Regions from separate parts of the Homo sapiens genome. Here regions 1 and 3 are each linked to region 2. The links come from fine-mapping of genetic effects on gene expression. A gene starts in region 2. Each other region holds a variant in brackets. All regions are shown on one strand. Distances are between the middles of the regions.

Region 1 (8,179 bases), 27 kb before region 2:
AGGATTTCTGTGTCTGGGGTGGTGAGGGAAGTGTGCTCTCTTGAACTGTGTGGAAGGCAAATTGGAAGAGCCACAGAGTTAACAAGCCCAGAAGCAGCCCTCAACCAGTGACAGACAGGGAGCTGATGGATAAACACACAGCATCCTTGTGCCGTGGCTGTGAGAGTGCTGTGTTCTGTGTTCCATCTACACCCCCGCAGAATGCCCCATGAGGGTTGGGCTCCTGATGCCCATGGGGGTAACTGGCATGACTTCTGTCCCTTCTCATGGCTCCACCCCCCTACTGATCATTCCCGGGGACACCTCCCTAGAATCACTGTTTCAGGGTCTGCTTCTAGGGGAACACAAACCCAGACACTGCCTTCAGGCCATTTTGCAGGTGGCTGTGGCTGTCAGGATGGAGAGCATCAAAGGCTAGCACTGCCTGGGTAGCTTCACAACCCTGAGCACAATCAACACTTGGAAGCACACGCATGTGGTGGTCAGGACTTCCCGGGGCTTCTCTCCCACCTCTTCTTCCATGGGGCCCTGCACACATTCTGTGCTGCTGCTGGACTCACTCACCCCCTTGCTCCCAAACAGGCACTGCCTACCACTGGTTTTCTGTTTGGTTTTCTCTACCTGGAAACATCTTTTCCTCCATATCTCCACTTGTCCAAATTCTACTCATCCTCCATGGACTGCCCTGGATGTTGCTGCTTCTAGAATTTCCATATCTCCTCTCTCCTTATTCCCCAGGCTTCAACGGGGCCACTCTCACAGCACTCATCAGATTCTGCTCTGGATTCGATTTAGCTACCTGCATATATGCCTCATATCCTGGCTACAGTGTTGTTCCTTCAGGGTGGAGCCTACCATGGGATCCCTTTCGGACCCCACGCAGGGCCTAATACAATGCTTTGGATATAGTAGCACCAAGTAAATATTTGCTGAACGAATGGAAACACTTGAAAGCACACTGGTCTCCTTTTGTCCCAACCATCATGCCCTTGAGAAAAGGAAAGTGTCTTTTCGTAGACCCTGCAGTGCCTCGCAGACTGTTGAGCACGTACCATGTTCTGTAGGGATACTTGCTGAGCAGATATAAAGCTTTATCTGTCCTTGACTCTTGAGGAACAGCTGGGTGGGAGACCAAGAACCAGGGACGGCAAGACTCGAAAATAAGGATTGGCAGACTACATACAGCCCACGGGGTAATCTGGCCCACTGCCTGTTTTTACAAATAAAGTTTTATTGGGAAACAGCCATGTTCATTCATTCACTTATTCTCTGAGGCTGCTTTTGCACTACAACGACAGAGATGAGTAGTTGTAGTAGAAACTGTTTGGACTGCAAAGCCTCAGATATTGACCATCCAGCCCAAGCCCTTTCCAGACAAGGTTTGCAGAGCCTGCTGAAGAGCACCATCCTGCTTTGAACTCAGGAACAGTTATGGCGTTAAATCCAGGCTGCAGTTTCGCTACCTGCTAATTTGTACTTTATCAAGGTTCTGGACTCACTGTCCCACTCTTTGTCTCCAACAAAGACGTTTGTTTCCCAGAGGCCATAACTTTCCACCATGGAGCTGTGGCACCAGAACCCCACAATCTCTAACCATGACAAAAACCACGTCCTGGAGCCAGGCCCTCCCCCGTACCATGGGGGACTCTGCCCAGAGGCAGCCCCCACAGCACTGCTCACCTTGTCCACCTTGTCCAGCCAGTCTTTGTTGGCAGCCAGCTCGGCCATGAATGCCTGGTGCTTCTGCCACTTAGTATGCAGGTTGCGGGCCTCGTCATAGGACACGTCCTGGGCTGTCAGCATCTTCTCGTCGATCCAGAGCTTCAGCTGGACCAAACATAAAACAGGGACATTTCCAAGGGAGGGGAGAGGGGGGCATAAAAGCAGGGCCACAGTGAGCCAGGAGAAGTGGGCGCCTTGGGAAGAAGCCATGAAGGGGCTCACAGTCTCCGGTACCTTGTGCTGGACTTATTCTAGGCTCAAGGTGAGAAAGGGATGGCTAGGGAATATCCCGGGGCCCCAGGGAGCCTCACCTCGTGACAATCTTGCAGGAAATGCTGCTGCTCCCGGTTGTCCCGAAGACGGCCCAGAAATTGCTGCGCTGCGTCTTGATTCTTCTTGTGCCTGGAACGACACCCTCTTGTGAAACTCTGGAATTTGCTGTGAAAGGATTGTGACCCTTTGGCTAACCTAGGGGCCTCCATTTCTTCTAGGGGAATAACGCCTTCCGGGAGCACAATGAGGCTACCCAGGAATCCTGACTTCCTTTTAGCCCTGGTTGGGGGTGGAATCTCCCAGCCCTCTCCAACCACTTAGTTCTTCCCCTCTACTTCTCTGTCAGCTCCTGCCCCATCTGTGGGTTTCCTGTGCCACGTTTATCTTTGAGGTCACCCTGTTTCTCCGATTCCCCCCTGGGAACCCTAATTCATGGACTGTCCTCATCAGACCTCCTCTCAATGGAGTCTGCCTTTTCCCGAATCTTGTCGGCGTGGATGTTGCCTTCAGATACCAGCTGGCGGCCAGCCTCCAGGAGCCCGTGGATCCGTTCCCCATTGGCGTCCATGGTGCTCATGAAGTCCTCCAGTTTTTTAATGGCAGCATCAGCAGCCTGGAGTGTCCCTGGCATCTCCGTGTGAGACAGAACATATTCCTGTGTGGGAGGGATGACATTCAGCTCATTTTCCCCAGCACAATTCACCCCCCTAGGAGGGACCCACCCAGGGGCAAATCTGAGAGGTAGGGACCAACAAGCAGACAGGGAGGGTAGCCCAGAGAGCTCTGAAGACAGGGAGGCTGCCAGCCAGCATGGGAGCCTCAGAAAGTCACAGGGAAGCTGGGTGGGAAGGACCTTCCATTCCCCAGCCCAAATCCTGTTCTATCTCACTTCTAGCTCCTGATTCCATTTAACAGTTACATGACAAACTGGGCTTTCTATTTCTTCTAAAGTCAGTTTTAGTAAATTATATTCACGTCTTTTTCATTCTCATTTTTCCTTCTTTTTTCTTTTTCTTTTTTTTGAGAGAGGGTTTCATTCTGTGGCCCAGGTTGGAGTGCAGTGGCATATCATAGCTCACTGCAGCCTCAAACTCCTGGCTCCAGTGATCCACCAGCCTCAGCCTCCCCAGTAGCTGGAGCTACAGGCATGCACCACCATGTCCAGTTAATTTTTTTTTTTCATAGAGATGGGGGTCTCACTATGTTGCCCAGGCTGGTCTCAAACTCCTGAGCTCAAGTTATTCTCCTGCCTCGGCCTCCCAAAATACTGGGAGTACAAGTGTGAGCCATCCTGTCTGGCTCCCATTTTTCTTTTTAAAAAATTCTTCTATTTTCTTAAAAAAATTTTTTTGTAGAGACAAGGTCTTGCCATGTTGCCCAGGTTGGTCTGGATATTCTCAGCCTCAAGTGATCCTCCTACTTTGGCCTCCCAAAGTGCTGGAATTTCAGGTGTGAACCACTGCGCTGCCCCATTTTGCTAGCATGTCCTTCCTGCCCATCCTGCTCCTTCACATTTCCCCGGGTCCCTACTTTGCTCTTCCTCCTGCTTGGGACTTTGCCCTGGACTTTCACCTGGCTGCTGAGCACGCCCTCAGCCTGACGAGCATCCCGCAGGAATCCCTGGAAGCCGTGGGCCTGGGCCAGGCGACCTTGCCGGCTCTCCCACATTCGGCCCAGCTCCTCCCAGCCAGTTCCCAGGGCCTCCAGTCGCTGTCGTAGGAAGAGGCACTGGGGGTCAGCCTGGTCCCGGGTCACCTCCTCGCCCAGGGCTCGCAGCCGGCTATACTCGCTCTGGGCCCGCTCCACCTCTCCCCGCAGGGCTGCATGTTGGGCCAGGAGGGCCTCTGCCTCAGGCAGGGTGGCCGGCCCTTCTTCAGAGGCCACAGCAGTCTGAGTGCGGCCTAGCCAGGCCTGGAAGTCATCCAAGCTGCGCAAGAAGTCCTGCAGCCGCCGCGCCTCCCCCAGCGACTCTTCTCGACGCCGCATGGTGGCCCTGAGGTCCTCCCAGCCGGTCTGCACCTCTCTCAGCCGGGCGTTGATGGCCACTGCCTGAGCGGGATGGCCGGCAGCCAGGGCATTTGCCTCTCGAGTCAGTTCGCCCACCCGGGCGGCGATGGCCTCCAGGTCCCGCTCCGTGCCGGCCAGCTTGCGCTGCAGGGCCAGCACCCCAGCCAGATCGTTGCCTAGGCCCTGGGTGGACTCGATGACTTTGGTCTTCTCTCTCATCCAGGCCTGGGTCTCCGTGCACTCTAAGTGGTAGTTCTGGATGCTCAGGGCTGAGGTGAGAGCTGCCTTCTTGCCGTCTGCCAGACGCCGAAACTGCTGCCACCTGAGAGCAGGGGGAAGGTTCAGCTTCCTGCCCTGGCCAGGCCTGTTTGGAAGCTTCTTCCCTGCTTCTCTCTCTCTTGGTAGCTCCCCTTCACTCCTCCCTTTCTGGCCAGCAGCCGCTTCAGACCACCTTGACCCCCTCTCTCATCTCTTTCATCCTTTTTCCTTCCCCAACATATTCCAGACTGGTTTGCTTCCTCCTTTGTAGCCACCCTTCCAGGCCCTACAAAACCTGCCTCTCACTGCCATCCCCATTGCTTCATTTTTCTGTCAGTTTCC[T/C]GGTCCTGCCCTCCCAAACCCACCTGTGGTTGAGCTGCTCCTGGGTGTTGACAATGCGGTCTTTGCCTGGGGGGTTGGCCTTCAGTAACTGCTCGGCAATGTCATTCACCGCGGTGATTTGTGCTGCAAGGGTGTTCATTTCAGGCTCCAGGGTCTCGAACCTGAGAGGGTGGAAGAGCCAGGCGTGAATTGTGGGAGGCAGCGATGTGCCCAGTCCACCTAAGTCCACCTCTCTTAAACACCCAGGAGGGTGTCTCCTTCACCAGGAGGCTTATCTGCAGGAGTCTCTCTGCCTCTCAGCCTATGAGGTTCATAGTATCTGTGCATCAAGGAAGGAACCCACAACTCCCCCAAAACAAGCAGAATAACTGTCATCGCTAGAAATGCTCAAAAGATGGTGAAAGGTAAAGGTCAGGAACAGACACACAAGTCAAACTAGACCCTGGCATGGGGCCAACCCTTTATCAGAGCTGCTCAGCCTCCTGGGACTTCCCCCTTAGCTGCCTATCTGGGTCTCATCCCACTAATATGTGTTAGAAAATGAAGTAATAACCAAAAATATTTGTCTGAGTGATGAAAATGTGAAGGATAACTTCTTCCAGGGACATTTTATGTTTTGTTTTTGAGATGGAGTCTCGCTCTGTCACCCAGGCTGGAGTGTAGTGGTGCAATCTCGACTCACTGCAACCTCCGCCTCCCGGGTTCAAGCAATTTTCTGCCTCCGCTTCCCGAATAGCTGGGATTACAGGTGCCCGCCACCAAGCCTAGCTAATTTTTGTATTTTTGGTGGAGACGGGTGTTTCACTATCTTGGCCAGGCTGGTCTTGAACTCCTGACCTCATGCTCCACCCGCCTTGGCCTCCCAAAGTGCTGGGATTACAGGCGTGAGCCACCTCGCCTGGCCGACATTTGATGTTCTAATAGGGCAGGGTCTGCAAATGTTTTCTGTGAAGGGCTTGATGGTAAATATTATAGGCTTCGTGAGCCATGCAGCTGCTGCGGCAACTATTCAGCCCTGCTGCTGTAGCCTGAAAGCAGCCACGGGCAATACGCAAAAGGGCGAGTGTAGCTCTGTTCCAGTAAAACTTTATTTACAGACCGGGCATGGTGGCTCACGCCTGTAATCCCAGCACTTTGGGAGGCTGAGATGGGTGGATCACAAGGTCAGGAGATCGAGACCATCCTGGCTAACACGGTGAAACCTCGTCTCTACTAAAAATACAAAAAATTAGCCAGGTGTGGTGGCGGGTGCCTGTAGTCCCAGCTACTTGGGAGGCTGAGGCAGGAGAATGGCGTGAACCCGGGCGGCGGAGCTTGCAGTGAGCCAAGATTGTGCCACTGCACTCCAGCCTGGGGGACAGAGCAAGACTCCGTCTCAAAAAAAAAAAAAAAAAAAAAAACCAAAAAAAACTTTATTTACAGAAACAGGCAGCAGGCTGGATTTGGCCCAAGGGTTGCAGTTTGTTAACCTCTACATTAGGATACCTTGAAAACTAAAAAAAATCTTTAATTACATTTTTATTTTTATTTATTTTTTTGAGACAGGGTCTTACTCTGTCACCCAGGTTGGAGTGCAGTGGCACGATCTCAGCTCACTGCAGCCTCGACCTCTGGGCTCAAGCAATCCTCCTGCCTCAGCCTCCCCAGTAGCTGGGACTACAGGCGCCTGCCACCATGCCTGGCTAATTAAAAAAAAAATTTTGTAGAGGTGGAGTCTCACTATGTTGCCCAGGCTGGTTATGAACTCTTGGAATCAAGTGATACTCCTGCCTTGGCCTCCCAAAGTGCTGGGATTACAGGTGTGAGCCACCAGGCCTGACCTAATTATATTTTTTTAAACACCAGGAAATTTGATTACACATTGATCATAGATCATATCAAGAAATTCCTGACCCGGCGCAGTGGCTCATGCCTGTAATCCCAGTACTTTGGGAGGCCAAGCCGGGTGGATCACGAGGTCAGGAGATCGAGACCATCCTCGCTAACATGGTGAAACCCTGTCTCTACTAATAAAAAAATACAAAAAATTAGCTGGGCATGGTGGTGGGTGCCTGTAGTCCCAGCTACTTGGGAGGCTGAGGCAGGAGAATCGCTGGAACCCGGGAGGCAGAGCATGCAGTGAGCCGAGATCGCACCACTGCGCTCCAGCCTGGGTGACAGAGTGAGACTCCATCTCAAAAAAAAAAGAAATTCCTAATTTTGTTCTATGTGATAATGGTATTGTGGTTCTATAAAAAAATTTTTAAGATTTATTATTGAATAAATGATTTGAAGATTTATTCTGTAAATAAAACTATTTTAGTGTCTCTGTCTAAAAGGTTTATAACTTCAAAGCCTCAGCTATTTTAAGTCCACACAGACAATTTGAAAATAATATATTGTAGGTAAGAATGCTTCCTCGTATTTCTTTTCTTTTTTTTTTTTTTTTTTTTGAGACAGTCTCGCTCTGTCGCCAAGGCTGGAGAGCAGTGGCACGATCTCGGCTCACTGCAAGCTCCGCCTCCCAGGTTCATGCCAGTCTCCTGCCTCAGCCTCCCGAGTAGCTGGGACTACAGGCGCCCCCCACTGTGCCCGGCTAATTTTTTGTATTTTTAGTTGAGACAGCGTTTCACCATGTTAGCCAGGATGGTCTCGACCTCCTGACCTCGTGATCCGCCTGCCTCGGCCTCCCAAAGTGCTGGGATTACAGGTGTGAGCCACCGTGCCCGGCCGCTTCCTTGTATTTCTTAAAGGGCACACCCTGAAGAAGGTAGGAGGGATGTGCTAATCTTGGGGATTTGCTTTTTAAAAGGGCAGAGAACCAAATAGAGCAAGATGTTGGCAATGACTGAATCTGGGTGACGGGTGTAGAGGGGTTTGTGGTGAAATGTCTCTACTTGTGAGTATGGTTAACATTTTTTGTTAAAACTAGAAATGGACAACCATTAAGACTCAAAGGGGTGAGGCAGGAAGTTTATGGAGGGACTCACCACCCACATCCTGGCCCCCCCACCCCCACCTCCCAAGGCTGGTCCCACTAGGAGCCTGAGGGGCCTACCTCTGCTGCACGACCTCCAGGTCCTCCAGGCGTTCAGGCAGGGCCAGCCCGTTGAGCCACTGCTCCTTCTCCTCCACCCAGAGTCCACAGGCCCCGGCCTCGCTGAGCATGGTGTAGAGCGCCAGGGCTGCCTCCAAGGCCCGCGCTCGCTCGCCTGCCCGGGCCTGCAGCTCCTCGTAGTGCCGCTCCAGGGTGGGCACCCGGCTCTGCACCTCGGGCGTGCGGCTCAGTGTGGGGGGCAGGGCTGCTGCCTGTTCCCTCAAGGCGTCCAGGGTTGGCCGGTGGCTTCGAATCTCCTCCTCCAGGGCCCGATGCTGCCTGGCTAGAGCCTGCGTGGAGAACTCGTCGTGCCCCAGCTCGGGGCTGGACACCAGGCGCAGTGCGTCAACCAACCAGGCCTCCATGTCGTTTGCATCGGCCTGGAACTGGTAGAGGCTGGCGGCTTGGGCCAGCCGCTGGGCACGCTCCTCGGCCAGGGCCTCTAGCCGCTCCCACTGGGCTTGGAGTTCAGCTGCACGGGCAGAGGCCTGGCTTGCCCCA
Region 2 (8,179 bases):
AAAAAAAAGACTGATTTGGATTCCTTTAGATGGGTCTACAGACTCAGCCACTTCACATATCTATGTTACCTGCCTGGCCCCAACTGTTGAGGTTTGCAAACCCTGCCTCATATTTTTGTACTCCACAAAGAGCAGAAACTCAAAGAAGCTAACCATCTGACCCTGTCTCCAAACCACAGTAGCTCTGAGGCCCCTGTAAGCTGCACAGAACCTAAACATGGACTGCTTAGGCTTATCTTTGGGGATCCAACTTGGTCCTCCCAAGGGGAGGGGCAGACAACCCTGGCCTTCAAGCAGGTCAGGTTCAGCTTCATGGAACCAGTTAATGATGGAAGCCAGAAAGGTTCTGCCTTTGTGTGTCCATGGGCACACACCTCCCTACCTACCCGAGTCTCACCACCCATCACTTCTCTCTTCTCCATACCTCCTTCCTTTCCAGAACCAGAGACTGCCAAGACCACAGCCCTGGTGGTAGGAAGTAGGGCTCAGGAGAAATGCAGAATTGGGGGTTTTGTTAAAGTTACAAAGGGGCCCAACTGGGAGCCAGACCCTCCAGGGAAGTCCAACTGTTAGAATGTCTCTGCGGATTCCTACCATTACCAGGAGAAAGTATGGAGCTAGAACCTCCTCTTCCCCCAAATAAAACCTCAGCCACTTAAATGCTCCTCTCTCCAAATTGAATTTGAAGCATGCATGCTGTGTGTTCTGAGTTTCCAGAAATGCTGTGATATGGATCAGGAACCAAGCTGGCACTGGTGTCCTTAGATCACAGACCCCCACAGGGCCACCATGTTGCAACTCCACAGCCTTCCATGTGAATGGTGCTCTCTGGCATTGTTCAGCATGTGGCTCTGAGGCTCTGCTACCTTTGTGTCTCTAGGTCTTGGTTTCCAAGCATTCTGGCTCTGTAGCTCCCTGGCCTTTTGGACAATATGCTGTGTTCTCAGCTTGTGTCCCCTGCTGCCATCTCTAGATTCCCACTGATTTCTATTTGCTTTTCTCCTACACATATCCAGCGCTGGTTTCTTGCCACTGAGTAGATCATTCCTCACCTATGACCAGGGTCTCCATGCTCACATTTCCTCAGTCGGCCAGCAGCCCCCCAGCTTCATGACCCCCTGTCATGAGGAAGCTGGAGAATCCTCAATCGTCCTCTCTTCCACAGATTCCTGAAGTCTGGCAATAGGGTGGTGCAGTAGCTAATCCAGATTACAGTCTCATCATACCTTATTCTTAGCAATTGACCTCAAGGCCAGGCCCAAGTAGCTTACACTGTTAGTGCTAGAAGAATGCCAACCCCCGCCGGCTGCAGGCTTGGGGTCCTGCTGGAATGTACTCCAGGCGCTGCTGGAGGCAGACTAGGCTCACCGTGCCGATCCTCCAGGGCAGTTTTCCTCTCTTTCAGCTGACATGTTAAGCTAGAAATCCTATACCCTGGGCTACAGGCTGCCTTGTATCCTAATTCTTCCTCTCACCACATCCTGCTCCTGATGAATTATTTCCCTCCCTCAGAGTTGATCATTCCCTCCTCTGTGCTTCCAGGGCACTTCGGCATGCAGCTAGTATTGTACTTATCACATCGCATTACGGTTAGTTGTTTACGTGTCTCTCTGCCCGCTCCACATTTAACTCATTGAGGACAAGGGCTGTCTTACTCGTTTTGGTGTTTTTCCAGACTCAGTACAACAGATATTCAATAAAGAGATATTGAATGACTTGACTATAATTCATTTTTTTTGGCCATGGAATTAATGTCTTTCTTAGGACTAGAGAGAAGCTCAAGGAAAGAATGAACACGGGATTGGAGAAGACCTGCTCCTGGGCTGGAATACTTTCAGGGTTGAGCTCAACAGCTCAGGTCTGGGGATTCTCAAACTTCCATGAATCACAACAACCTGGAGGACTGTTAAATCACAGGTCACCCCCCCATCCCCCAGTTTACGATTCAGTACTTCTGGGGTGGTACCTGGGAATGTGCATTTCTAACCTGTTCCCGGGTGACACTGAAGCTAATGGTCTGGGGACCACACTTTGAGGGCCACCCTTGTCCAAAGATGAGAAGCAGCTGGAATTGGTTAGAGGAGCCATGAGTGTTGAGAAGACACAAAGTTTCAGGGGTGAGTGTGACCCAGGGTTAGCTTCTAGGTCTGCTCAGGCCCTACCCCACACTAAACTCAAATATCACTTCCCCTCAGGAGCTCAGGCGATGGGAGAGGAAGATGAAGATGGAGTAGGTACCACAGGTAATGAAAGAAACAGCACAGCGAACCGCAGATATGCGGGAGGAGAACGGCAGAGCTAGAGAAGTCACGGGAAGGCAGAGTTGAACAAATGACAGTGAGATGAATAATAGATTAGAAGAAATGGGGACTTTGGCAAAGTTCAAATCTTATTTGCTTCTAAGTATAAATGGGTGGACTGGCAGAGAGATAAAACGAAAAAGAAGTCACAAATCAGCTCAGGGCCTCCAGGAAGGCAAGAGAAAGATGGGCCCAGGGCAGAAGGAAGGAACAGCAAAACCCCGACCCACCTCTCAGACTGTGTTCCTGATCAATTCCCTCGGAGGAAGTTAGGAACTGGGCTGAAGAGGGGGACTGAAATTTTATTTTCTCTTCTAGAATCCTCCAGTTATGGCAGATTTATTCAAATATTCAGATTCTTCACTCCCTTGCTATCTCCCTTCCCCAACCCGGGGTCACATCAATTTCTCTAAGGGAAGAATGTAAACTCCATCCTATCTTCTCCTCGGCCAATCCTTTGCCTTTCTGAATAAGCCAAGAGGTTGCCCCACACCTCAAGCTAAGACACATATTTGGAACTCACTCTGCCCCTCTTCACCTTCAAGGAAAACTGGTTTGTTGCTACCTCTGCCCATACCTGAAACCCCCGGGCTCTCCAGCGTTGGAACTGTGGCTGCTCCGAGAGGGGGAGGGCAGACGACATGTAGCAGGTTAAGACCGGGGCAAACCTGCACCTCACACAAGCATGCAATGTCCTGGGGTCAATGGGGTAAAGTTCCAAGCGAGTGGAAGGTAAATCACGACTGTGGCACCGGAGCCGGAACACCCCCGCGAGCAGGCCTTGCTGGGTAGTTCCGTGCGGGGCGGACCGCACAGCCCTATCAGCTTCCTGGCCACAGAAACGCCGCACGCGGCCGCTTCCCCGCCGCCCGAAGCGTCTGCTTTCTCCCCGGGCCAGTTCCGGCCACCACAGCCAACCGCGTGCCCCTCTCCCACACACTGTGGGGGAACAGAAGGGAGCGCGTGGAGCCAGCTGCCAAAGAGGCGAGGAGGAGCCCACGCGGCTCCGGGGAGGAGGGAGCCCGGCTCCCGCAGTCCGCCGGGCAGAGGCGGCCGAGCGCGCCCCCAGCACCTGGCCCGGCGCCGGCCCGTCCGCCCCGCAGCCCCGGCGACGCGAGGGGCCGGCGCTGTCAGACCCGCTCCCAGCCTCGCCGCGAACGTGTCCGTCAGCCCTAACTGTTCCAGACTCTTCTCCCGGCTCCAGAGAGGCCCGAGTCCCCCCCCCTCGGCCTTGGCCCCCACCGCCCTCATCCCGGTACCTGTGTGGCTGGCACGGGACCCTCTCCGTCCCGTCCCCGCCTGCTCCCGCCCCGGCTCACCCCGGCCGCCGGGACCCGACCCCGACCCCGACCCCGACCCCGCCGACCGCACGCGGCCGGACAAAGCGCGCCGCCCCGCGGGCCGGGACAAAGCGGGCGGGGCGCCGGCACCTACCTCGGCGCGGAGCCGCGGCCGGGCGGGCGGGGGCGCGGCGGGCGGGGGCGCACCGGTAGTTGCCGCGCCTGCAGCCCGGCCGCGACGGGCGGTTGCAGGCAGCGGCCGGGCGCACGGCGGGCGGCGGGCGGGCGCTGTCACGGGGCGCAGGCGGCGCGGGGGGCGCGCGGGGCGGGCGGCGGCGGGGCGCGTGGCGGCGGCGCGCGGGCGCGAGCGGCGGGACTGCGGCGCCGCGGAAGGAGGACAATAGCCTCCCCCTGCCGCAGGCCGCCGGCTCCCGCGGGAGGCCCGGGACCATCTGGAGCCGGCGGCCCCGCGGGGCTCTGGGCGGGGCCCGAGTCGCCCCTTCCCCGCCCAGCGCCATGGCAACCGAGGCCCCTCTCGGTGCTCCCCGCCGCTCCCCGCCCGGGGTAGTTGACCTGCCTCGGGGCGAACGCGGCAGCAGCTCCGAGGCCGGCTGCCGACCCCCAGCCACCTTCCGTGCGGGGTCCCCCCAAAACCCCGCCTTCCCGTCCTCGCTGGTCCCTGGGTCCCCCACCACAGCTTACAGGTCTTGATCTCCCCGGTTCGGACACCTCACCTTTGTCCCTATTCTGCTTTTCCTCCAAAATCCGTATCCCCGAGACACGCGATCCTTCCTCTAATGACACTGCCGACGAGGTTTCCCGAGATCCAGCCTCCGTTCCCCTTTCCTCTCCGGGCACCTCCAGTCCGTCTCCGCTAAGCATTCCTCTCACCCGTCCCCTCGCTCTCGCGTCCTCCTTCAGGCAGCTGGGCCGGCTCTCCCTCCCAGAACATCTCCATGGCACAGTGAAGATTCGTCTTCTACAGATCAGATGCTCCAAACAGGCATCTCAGCGCTTCTCAGCTCCTCTCATTTATCAACCAGGAGAATTCCGGCCTAGTCACCGTCTTGAGGGGGGTGGGGGTGGGGGCAGACATTTCTAGGCCTGACACGGCTGGGTTTCTCCTTGGTTTGTTAGCGTCTGAGTGGTCTAAGGTCCAAGGTCCTTAACCAAGGTGAACTGCTGCCTGCTTAGGAGAGGAAGGAATTATGCCCAAATCATGACAAACTCACAGAGTGCCAGGTGGGTGCTAAAAGCGCATCATCTCATGTGACACTCCCACCCCCACTCCAGCTCTGAGAAGTAGGTGCTGTTCTTCCAGATTAGAGAACTCAGCTCAGAGATGAGCCAGTGGTAACAGGGTGAGCTTTGTACAGAGCCGTTAGGTTATGTACTGCCCCTGAAGATGAGGGCCCGTTTCTATCCAGGGAATGCCTGAAATGGTCAAGTAAGGGCACTCAAAGAATGGGCTTTGAGTGAATTATTGGATTTAAGGTTTTATAATAGATTTATGGGTAATTTAGGATTTTGCTCCTTTCTGAAAAGGTATGCATACTGAAACAAATATGTGCAATTGAAGTACTTTCCAGATATGGTTTTGACAACCCTAACTAGTGGTGTCATCTACCTCGCCTTGGTTTTCCTAGTCTATAAAATGGGTTGGGAGGAGGGTTGGGGAGTTCCATTGAAAGATTACTTTGAAGTTCTCTCCTAGCTCTGATATCTGTGCTTCTACCACGAAACTGGAACTGGCTCTCTGGTGTGTACCTCACAGTTAGCTGCATTTGAGGCTATTTATTATTATTATTATTTTGAGACGGAGTCGTGCTCTGTCACCCAGGCTGGAGTACAGTGGCTTGATCTCGGCTCACTGCAACCTCCTCTTCCCGGGTTCAAGCAATTTTCCTGCCTCAGCCTCCCGAGTAGCTGGGATTACAGGTGCATGCCACCATGCCCGACTAATTTTTGTATCTTTAGTAGAGTCAGAGTTTTGCCATGTTGGCCAGGCTGTTCTTGAACTCCTGACCTCAGGTGATCTGCCTGCCTCAGCCTCCCAAAGTGCTGGGATTACAGACGTGAGCTGCCGTGCCAGGCCTGAGGCTATTTATTATTTTTAATAGCCACTCTTTCAGGCAATGGCATTAAAGAAACAAGGGCATAAACTGCAACTCTTCCCAGAGGTAGGATTATGTGTTGGTTGGTTCGGGGGAAGGAGGCACCAACCTGTGCATGACGGTCATCAGGGACACTTGGTCAGGGACATTAAAGCTGATGGGATGAGAATCAGCTGCCCATGGCCAGGCGCAGTGGCTCACCCTTGTAATCCCAGCACTTTGGGAGGCCGAGGCAGGTGGATCGCGAGGTCAGGAGTTCAAGACCAGCCTGGCCAACATGGTGAAACCCCTTCTCTACTAAAAATACACAAATTAGCCAGGCGTGGTGGTGGGCATGAAATCCCAGCTACTCAGGAGGCTGAGGCAGGAGAATCGCTTGAACCCGGGAGGCAGAGGTTGCAGTGAGCTGAGATTGTGCCACTGCACTTCAGCCTGGGCAACAAGAACGAGACTCCATCTCCAAAAAAAAAAAAAAAAATTAGAGAATCAGCTGCCCTGCCAAAGGAACTGGAACCACCAAGCTGCTGCTGCTGTACTGGTTACGGGAACTAAGGGTCTCAATGACAGCCTATAATATCGTGACCCAATTAGAAGTCAAGGGTATTAAGTCTTATGATTAGCAAAATAATATCTTTTATAATTTCCTATTTTCAGCATTTCATAATCCTTCAAGAAGCCTTGTAAGATAAACATTCTCATTCTTATTCTATTGATGAACAGACTGATGTTCAGACACCTAAGTGAATGTACAAGTTCACAGAATTAGTTCATGGTAGAAACTCCAGGTCTTCTGAATCCTAATATGTTCTTTCCTCTCTGCTAGACAGGGAGTATAGCAGAATGGTTAAAAGCATTGATTTTGGAGTCAGACTCCTTGGGTTTAAAACATAGTTCTGCCACCCACTGACTATGTGACCTTGGGCAAGTTACCTCCCTAGGATTCAGTTTCCTTACATGTAAAATGGCACCATAATGTGGGGAACATCAAATGAATTATTGCAGGTAAATGAATTATATGCAGCACATAGTAAGCACTTAATCAGTATCAGCCGTTATGATTTTACCGTATTATTTCCCATACTGTTTCCCGATTTGGAGAGGAAGCACATTGAATAAAGAGAACACTGAGATCACCTATCTCAGCTCTGTGACTGGGTTGCTTTGGAAACTTGTTATTTTGCTCTGTAGTGAACCAGTACAGTCAATGATGAAGAAAATATCTGGTTCCTTCTTATTTGAGTTGCAAAAGCGAATGGAATGATATCCACCAAGTTTGTTGAGCTTCTCAGTGAATCCACATTTGCTGCTTACATTACCAAGATTCATGGAAAGGTTTTGGCTCTGCCCACCAAACATACATACATAGCCGAATTCTCAGTTCTTGTTTCAATACCAGGGAAGAGGTGTCCCTCTTTTCACCTAAGATGGATTCTTCTGGCTCCTATGCTAAGTCTCATCCCCTTCTGCAGCCTCACGGCCCTCACTGCTGTCTCTCAGCTGGTTCCTTCCCATCAGCATTTAAACATGCTCAAGCATTTGCCAGCTTAAAAAATAATCAAGAAGCCCCGACTTCCCTCCATGCATTCCCCTTGCTCTTTATGTTCACAGTCTTCCTGAGTCATTTGCACTCATTGGCTTCACTTCCTCGCCCCTGCTCAATCAAATATTTATGCAAAAACTATATGGCTAATTATATACCAGGCACTGTGCTGGGATCTGGGGATATAATGATGAGTAAAATGGATACTGTCTGTTTTCTCTTGGAAGAGCCTGTGGTGGGATTGACAGACATTAATAAAATAACCCATCAGATATATAACCACAAAGTATAATGAGTGTTATGAATGAAAAGTTCAGGATGTTAAGAGAGAACTGAACAGAGTCATAACCTCAGATCACCTGAGCTGAGATCTGAAATATGAGAAGCATTAACCAGACAGAGTGGGGAATAATAATAGCTGTTACTAACATTAACGTGGAACTGTATTTCTAATACTTTACACATAACATTTCATTTAATCCTTTATAACAACTCCAAGAGGTAAGTATTAACCCCATTTCACAGATGAGGAAATGGAGACATTGAGAGATTAAGTACCTTACTCAGGGTCATCAAACCAGGCAAGGGTAGAGCTGGGATTTTAACCCAATCTGACCCTTGAACCCATGTTCTTAGCCACAGAGCATATGGCTAACAGGCCTGATGTTGCAGGACACATGGTGTACATAGGAAATGGAGAAAAGAGGCCGGGTGCAGTGGCTCACGACTTTGTAATCCCAGCACTTTGGGAGGCCAAAGTAAGCGGATCACAAGGTCAGGAGATTGAGACCATCCTGGCTAACACAGTGAAACCCCTTTTCTACTAAAAATACAAAAAAATTAGCTGGGCGTGGTGGCATGCGCCTGTAATCCCAGCTACTCGGGAGGCTGAGGCAGGAGAATTGCTTGAACCCGGGAGGCAGAGGTTGCAGTGAGCTGAGATCA
Region 3 (8,179 bases), 620 kb before region 2:
AAACTCTGTTTCAAAACAAACAAACAAACTGGTAATTATGATAACTATAGAAATGAGGAGAAATGTTTATGGTAGGTCAAAATCGTAGGCACACTGCCTCCCTAAAATATGAATGAATATGGACAAAGACTGGAAGATAATGTGAAAATGAAATCATTTTAAGACAGTGGAATTTTTGGTGGTTTTTCTCTCCAAAATTTTCTTTAATACTATTGCTTACTCATCTTTTCAGAAATGATTTTAAATATGTATAAACTTTCCATGCCCTTCCCTGCACTATGTACAGAAATAGAATCTTTAATGTGGATCACAAATAACACAATAATCAGAAATTAGAGATGGTGTTGAATCTCAGCATTGGTAATGAGAATAGGCTTTATGGATAGATATTCCACTTTATCCTGAGATACACAGCTACAGTATACTTTCTGGGAGGAGTATGCCTATAAGCATCCTTGGCTGGAACCTGAATTGGGTTTACAAGCTTACATTTAGATAAAAGCCTTTTTATTTGAGATGAAACCCATACAGGCAGGGTAGAAAGGAGTGGCCTGGGTGAGAATGTCTAATGTTTGGGTTTTCTCAAAGCGTCATTCCTCCTTTCCTCTTATTCTGGCTAGCTTTTCCACAGTGTCATGTAAAGAGGCAGCATTTTCTAGAAGATGCAAGTCATTTGAAGTAGTCATTTGGTTTTCTTCTCATTTCACTTTCAGCCTGCCTTTAAAAATGTAGCTGAGGCCCACCGCTGTGGCTCACACCTGTAATCCCAGCACTTTGGGAGGCTGAGGCGGAAGGAGCACATGAGCCCAGGAGTTCAAGACCAACCTGGGCGACAGAGGGAGAACCTACAAAAAATGAAAAATAAAAAATACAAAAATGGCCGAGTGCAGTGGCTCACGCCTGTAATCGCAGCACTTTGGGAGGCTGAGGTGGGCAGATCACTTGAGGCCAGGAGTTCAAGACCAACCTGGCCAACATGGTGAAACCCCATTTCTACTAAAAATACAAAAATTAGCCGGGCGTGGTGACACGTACCTGTAATCCCAGCTACCTGGAAGGCTGAGACATGAGAATCACTTGAACCCGGGGAGGTTGCAGTGAGCTGAGATCGTGCCACTGCACTCCAGCCTGGGTGACAGAATGAGACTCCATCTCAAAAAATAAAAAAAAATATAAAAAAATTAGCCAGGCGTGGTGGTGCATGCCTGTAATCCCAGCTACTGGGTGGAGGTGAAGAGGTAGGCTGAGGTGGGAGGATCGCTTGAGCCCAAGAGGTTGAGGCTGCAGTAAGCCAGGATCACACCACTGCACTGCATGCAACCTGGATGACAAAGCGAGACCCTGTCTCAGAGAAAAAAAAAAAAGATAAATCTTGTCTTTGTACCTTAGTTTCTCCACATGCAAAACTGGTTCTTTATACCTTTCCGAAGGTTGTGTGGTGAGTTTGCTGCTAAATAGGTTTTTGTGTTTCTTCTACCAAACTACCTTTCCAGGATATCTACAGTTGGTGTTCAAGCCATTGCCTCTGGGCTTCATGTGAGCATTCTTGCCCCGGGCAGGAATTCTGCAGCACAAAACAAAGTACTAAAGATTTTACCCTTTGAGAAGCCTACTCCTTAAGGGAATATTACCTCCCAGGTTTAGCAGTTGGGAAGACATGAAGTACCTGTTCTCATTTCATTCAAATGCCATTCAGTGGTCTGTGAGTCTACATGAAATGACTCCCTGCGGACAGCACCCTCCCCCAGTCTGACCACCTACTACTTCCTCCCAGGTCACTCCCTTGCAGCCACGCAGGCTTCTTTGCTCTTTCCTGAAAATGTCAATTATGATCTGCCTTGGTCTCTGCACTGCCTCTGCCACATAGAGTCATGGTTCATTTTCACTCCTCCTCAAAGTGTTTGCTCATGTGTCATCCATCCCAGTGAGGCCTGTCCTGTGCTCCCCTCCCCCCACATTATTCCTGCTTCCCTTTCTCCATAGCACTTGTCAACTGCTAACACACTATATCCTTTTCCTGTATACTATGCTGATTGTTTACTGTCTCCCTGTTTCCAGGTAGAATGAAAGCTCCATGAGGGCCATGATTTGTACTGATTTTGTTCACTGTTCTATCCCCAGTGGTTAGATTAGGGTCAACCACATAGTAAGTGCTTGGTAAATATTTGTTGAATGAATGAAATGGCTGGGACACTGAGTTTCACCCTCTGCTTGGAATTCTTTTACTTATATGATTGTTACCACTATACCACGTTGGCCAGGGATGCTCTGTTCCCCCTTTAATGAACAAGGACAAAAACATCTTCTCTTGATTCTTTCTTAGCATAACTGAGATAGGCTGGAGAGTTCAAGGAAGTGTTTTGAGTACTAAGAACAATAGAGAAACCAGCATAGAGAATGCAACAAGTATTACAACAGTCTGGCTTAACAGTGTTTCACTCTTGGAGCTGCCATATCTAGCTTGTTCTCATATTTTGCAGGCCCCATCCTAATCTACCCACTTAGGAGAAATCTAATTCCAGCTTCATAGGACTAGTCCTGACCTTGCCTTGATGCCCTGCATGTGGCACCATCTCATAATCTGTTACTAAGGAGCTCCCTTTTGTACATCATGACAGCTGCCAACAAGGCCAAGAGAACCCAGCAAGGCTCATTTTCTAGTTTGAGTGTTGTGTTAGTCTGCATGGGCTACCATAACAAAATACCATAGAATGAGTGGCTTAAAAAGCAAACATTTTCTCACAGTTCTGGAGACTGGAAGTCCAAGATTAAGGTGCCAGTAGGGGTTGGTTTCTGGTGAGGCCTTTCTTCTTGGCTGCAGACGGGCACATTCTAGGTGTGTCTTCATGTGGCCTTTCCTCTGTGCACAGAGAGCATATGTAAGCCCTTGTGTCTTCCTTTAATAAGGATGCCAGCCCTATCAGATTAGGGCCCCACCCTTCTGACCTCATTTAACCATATTACATCCTTAGGGCACTATCTCCAAATGCAGTCACTTTAGGGATTAGGGCTCCAGTATAGGAATTTAGGGCCAGGTATGGCAGCCCACACCTGCAATCTCAGAGCTTTGAGAGGCCAAAGTGGGAGGATCGCTTGAGCCCAGGAGTTTGAAACCAGCCTGGGCATCATAGCAAGACCCCCTGTCTCTACAAAAGCTGGCAGCCTGAGTATTAAGATCTTATCTCTACAAAGAAAAAAAGAAAATTAACCAGACAGGGTGGTATGTACCTGTAGTCCAAGCTACTTGGGAGGCTGAAGTGGGAGGATCACTAGAGCCTGGGTAATTGAGGCTGCAGTGAGCCATGATTGTGCCACTGCACTCTAGCCTGAGTGACAGAGAGAGGCCTTGTCTCAAAAAGAAAGAGAGAAAGAGAGAAGAGAGAGAAAGAGAAAGAAAGAAAGAATGAATGAGTTAGCTGGGTGTGCTGATGTGTCTGTAGTCCTAGCTACTTGGGGCTGAGGTAGGAGAATTGCTTGAGCCCAAGAGTTCAGGGCTGCAATGAGCTATGTTTGTGCCACTGTACTCCAGCCTGGATGACAGAGCAGCAAGACCCTGTCTCTAAAAACAAAACAAAACTAAGAATTTTAGGATGACACAACTCAGTCCATAGCAAGTGATACCTCTTTGACTGGAACAAATAACCTTATGCTTCAGGTGCAATATCTCACACAGACACTATGGCCTTCGTTCACTTTTTAAACTAGCATTTATTGAAGACAAAACTATGTGCCAAGTTTTATGCCAGCTGCAGGGGATATCCCGTACCCTCCACCAGTAGAGGAGACAGAGCCAGTTTCAGAGAAGGGTGGTGAGTACCTGGGGATGGATGGATGTGTCAGGAAAAGTTTCATTGAGAAGGTCGCATATGGCCAGGCGTGGTGGCTCACGCATGTAATCCCAGTACTTTGAGAGGCTGAGGTGGATCACTTGAGCCAAGGAGTTTGAGACCAGCATGGGCAACATAGTGAGACCCCATCTCTATTTTAACAAAAAGTAAAAGAAAAAGAGAAGGTCGCATATGGTCTTTCAGGTCTGTGAAGAAGTGTGTGCATAGTTTACCACACAACAGCATATGAGTCATGTCACCATCATTATTGTCATCACCCATCTTTATAGTAACAAGAAGGTAGTTCCTTCACACTCTAACCTAAGCCCTTTTTCTTCATCTTCACCTGGCTTTGGTTCTTTTGCTACAGTTACTCCAGCCTCTCTCCCCAGCCTTTATCTTCCACATTTTCTGCTGTGTTGTTTCAACAGCCAGTGACTTTTCTGTTCATACTCTATTGATGATGAAGTAAAAATTGATTTTGATTTGTTTCTGATTTCTTTTCCTTAGTAAGTTTGAGTTGAACCTTTAGTTCTCTCTCCTCATCTCCTCGCTTTCTACAAAGGCAATTCCTGGTGTTAAGTGAAAGCTGTTCCTGTTAGAGCCTACTGTTTGCCATTAATAAGTGATAAGGGAGGTTGTCAGCCAGCATTAATACTCTGTTTATGAAATTACAGTTACTGATGCAGTATTTTGTGAAGTTCTTAAGATATAAACGGCACAAGTGATTTGATAAGTTATAGCTCCAGAGACTTCCTTACATAGTATGCCAGTATTTCTTTTTCCCCTCTCAACGGGACACACATAACATTAAATTAAGTTTGTCTTGGTTGCCATTTACTTTAAACGGATCTGGTGCCTGTGCTCAGATATGTTTATGAGAGTATAATTGACTTCTCTGAAAGCATTGAGATTGAGGGAGTAGTTATATCTTACCTTAGTCTCATTGATGATTCATGGAATTGAAATAATTAAAAAGTACTTATTACATGCCTGATTGCTTCATGACCCTTTGATAAACTACCAACACTCATATCAAATGTCTCCTGATTTAAAAAAAAAA[A/T]TTTTTTTTATACATATATAGACAAGTTCTCACTGTGTCACCGAGGCTGGAGTATGGTGGCTTTCACAGGCATGATCATAGCTCACTGCAGCCTCGCCCTCCTGGGCTCAAGGGATCCTCCTGCCTCAGCTTCTCGAGTAGCTGGGACCACAGGCACCTGCGTCTAGCTAAATGCCTCTTGATTTTAATGGCATGTCTTGTCTTCATAGCATATTCCACAAAAAACTCTAAAGTCTGATAGAAATGATCCTTCTCTTTCCTGTAGTTTTTTTTTGTTTGTTTTGTTTTGAGAAAGGGTCTCACTCTGGTTGCCCAGGCCGGAGTGCAGTGATGCGATCTCGGCTCACTACTACAGCCTCTGCCTCCTGGGTTCAAGTGATCCTCCCACCTCCTGAGTACCTGAGACTCCAGGTGTGCACCACCATGCCCAGCTAATTTTTGTATTTTAGTAGAGACGGGGTTTTGCCATGTTGGCCAGGCTGGTCATGAACTCCTGACCTCAAGTGATCCTCCCGCCTCAGCCTCCCAAGGTGCTGGCGTTACAGGCATGAGCCGTAGCACCCAGCCAACATTTTACTCTTTATACGTGTGTTCAGCTACAAAACTTTCTTCCCTACCAACCCTCCCAAGTCTAAGTAAAATTGATCTCGGAGTCACTTGACCTATTTATCTGGTATTATCCTGGTACGCTGCTAGAGGTATATATACAGGGTCATGTGTCACTTAAGGATGAGAATGTGTTCTGAGAAACATGTCATCATTGAGTGTACTTACACAAACCCAGATGGCATAGCCCACTACGCACCTAGGCTGTGTGGTATGGCCTGTTGCTCCTAAGCTACAAACCTGTACAGCACTGATTCAACTTTAGGCAATTGTAACACAGTGGTATTTGTGGATCTAAACATAGAAAAGGTACAGTAAAAATACAGTATAAAAAATGTTGCATCTGTATAGAACAACTCCATTATAATCTTATGGGACCCCTGTTGTATATGTGGTTTATTGTTGACTGCATGTTGTTCTGCGGTGCATGACTGTACTAGTTTTAAAAGCAGAACTGTCTCTATAATCCACTTCTTAGCTTCAGGTACTATTTCCTAATATCAGACACGTGGCACTGACTTTTCTTCTTAACTCCAGACTTATGTATCCAAGTGCCTATTTGACATCTGCATTTGGATATTGGATCAGCATCACAAATTTAATACAAGGACCTAACTCTTGATTCTCTCCACAACGCCAAACCTGTTTTTCCTCTAATTGTCCCCACCTCAGTCAACTATATTATCCACCTAGCTGCCTAAGCCAGAAACCTAGGAATTATCCCAGATTATTATTCTTTTTTTTGTTTTGTTTTGTTTTTTGTTTTTGACTCACTCACTCTGCTCAGGCTGGAGTGCAGTAGCGTGATCTCTGCTCACTGCAACCTCCACCTCCCGGGTTCAAGTGATTCTCCTGCCTCAGCCTCCCTAGGTGCTGGGATCACAGGCATGCGCCACCACGCCCAGCTAATTTTTGTATTATAGAGATGGGGTTTCACCATGTTGGCCAGGCTGGTCTTGAACTCCTGGCCTCAAGTGATCCGCCTGCCTTGGCCTCTCAAAGTGCTGGAATTACAGGTGTGAGCCACTGCACCCAGCTCAGATTCTTCTTTATAATGCCTGCCTCATGTAGTCCCTCAGCAGGAGCTATTGATTCTGAACCCTTCCCATCCCCCGTGGTTCCCTTGCTCTCCTGTCGTTCACACCACCCTGTCTCACCTGCATCACGCAGTAGCCACCAGACTGATCTGTTTCACTGCCTGTGCAGTTCTTCTCTACACTGCCGGCAGAGTGGTCTCTTTGAAATGCAGATCTGATTGTTGCACTCACCTGCCTAATCCCCTCCAGTAAAACCCAGACTTCTTCTCCTGGCCTACAAGATCCTGTTTGGCTTGGCCTCTGCCTGCTCTCCAGCCTGTTTCTTACCCTCTTCGCCTAGTTTGCTGCATGCCTGCCACATGGCCTGCCTTCTGCTGCTGCTTGGATAGGAGAGGCTCAGTCTCTCCTTAGGGCCTTTGTGCTTGCAGTTCTTGGAAATGCTTGGATGTCAGAAGGTTACATGGCTGTCCCGTTGGTGTCATTCAGGTCTCACTCAGCGCAGACAGGCCTTCCCTCGCTGCGCAGTTAGTCACATGCCTCTCGTTGCTTTCTTAATATTTTACTTTAAACTTTTTTTCTATTACATACCTTATCCGACATGATTTTGTTTGTGTGTTTTACAGGAGAGGGGTTATATCTGTCTCGTTCATGACTGAGTTCTCAGTGCCTGAACAGTTCCTGACATCCAGTAGACCCTTTATATCTATTTGTTGAATAAGTGACTGCTTTTCCCGTTGTGCATGGGCCAGTGCCAGGGGTCGAGTTGTAGTGAACTGAGAGTACATGGACAGTGCTGAATGGGGAAATGAAAGTTATCAAAAGCCTCTGGTGCCTTGCTTATTCATAGCAGATTTGTTCATAATAACAAAAGCTGGAAAGAACCCAAATGCCCATCAACACATGAATGAATAAACTGTGGCTATGATTTGGCTATAAAAAGAATGATACATGGTGGAATATGGATGAATCTTGAAAGCATTATGCTGCATGAAAGGAAGCCTTACACAGAAGAGCACATACTTAGGATTCCATTGATATGAAATTCTAGGAAGGGCATTTAATTTATAGTAAGAGAAAAGTGGCTAACCAGAACCCAGGATGGGAGAGGGTTGACTGGGATGGAACACAGAACTTTTAGGGTAATGGAAATGTTCTGTATCTTAAATATGGTGGTGATTACACAGGTATAAATTTGTCAGAACTTATCAAAATGTACAATTAAATCAGTCCACTTTATTGTATATAAACTATTTCTCAAAGTTGAACTGGTGTCTGACATTTAAATGTACTTTGGATTTCTTTTGTTTACCTACCCACTTCTTGGGCAGATGACTTTTCTTTTAATTTCCAGTTCTCCTAGCTACCTGCTGACTCATCCCAGACGTACTTACATTCCTGTTTCTGAATCAGTTCCAACATCCTTTGGGTCTCTTGTCCTCAATCTCTAGTTGGCAAAACATCTTTCTAATTGCAGGGTTATTGGTTATCTTCAGATATGCTATTGGAACTTACTTACCATCAAGGCTAGTTGGGTCTCCACCTCAAAGACTAAGTATCTCCAAACAGATACTTTTACAACGTAACAAGCAAGGAAAAAAAATGTTTGCAGCACATGTAGTTTGACAAGAAGACATAAGAGTATATTT

Which allele goes with the higher level. Positions count from the first base shown, and alleles are read on the strand shown. Sizes are in standard deviations (SD) of each study's normalised expression.
In carriers of allele T in region 1, the expression in T cells of the gene that starts at base 4,790 in region 2 tends to be higher than with C alone (large effect, 0.80 SD a copy in GENCORD).
In carriers of allele T in region 3, the expression in lymphoblastoid cells of the gene that starts at base 4,790 in region 2 tends to be higher than with A alone (large effect, 1.6 SD a copy in GEUVADIS).

Evidence for each region.
Region 1: its variant is fine-mapped to the expression of SPTBN2 in T cells (GENCORD, PIP 0.95).
Region 3: its variant is fine-mapped to the expression of SPTBN2 in lymphoblastoid cells (GEUVADIS, PIP 0.95).

What each region holds. Positions count from the first base shown.
Region 1 is chr11:66,696,959-66,705,137 of GRCh38, forward strand. It overlaps SPTBN2 (spectrin beta, non-erythrocytic 2), which reads right to left. Exons shown (of 38, transcript NM_006946.4): 15 at 7,640-8,179; 16 at 4,626-4,763; 17 at 3,568-4,324; 18 at 2,448-2,650; 19 at 2,034-2,124; 20 at 1,681-1,827. Among named protein-coding and RNA genes, the nearest start is that of RBM4B, 23 kb to the left of the region's middle. The variant T/C (reference allele first, on the strand shown) is at 4,603.
Region 2 is chr11:66,724,427-66,732,605 of GRCh38, forward strand. SPTBN2 (spectrin beta, non-erythrocytic 2) reads right to left here and starts at 4,790. Exons shown (of 38, transcript NM_006946.4): 1 at 4,315-4,790.
Region 3 is chr11:66,105,412-66,113,590 of GRCh38, forward strand. All of the region lies in intron 1 of PACS1 (phosphofurin acidic cluster sorting protein 1), which reads left to right. Among named protein-coding and RNA genes, the nearest start is that of PACS1, 39 kb to the left of the region's middle. RefSeq lists enhancers at 1,549-2,392, 7,919-8,008. The variant A/T (reference allele first, on the strand shown) is at 4,891.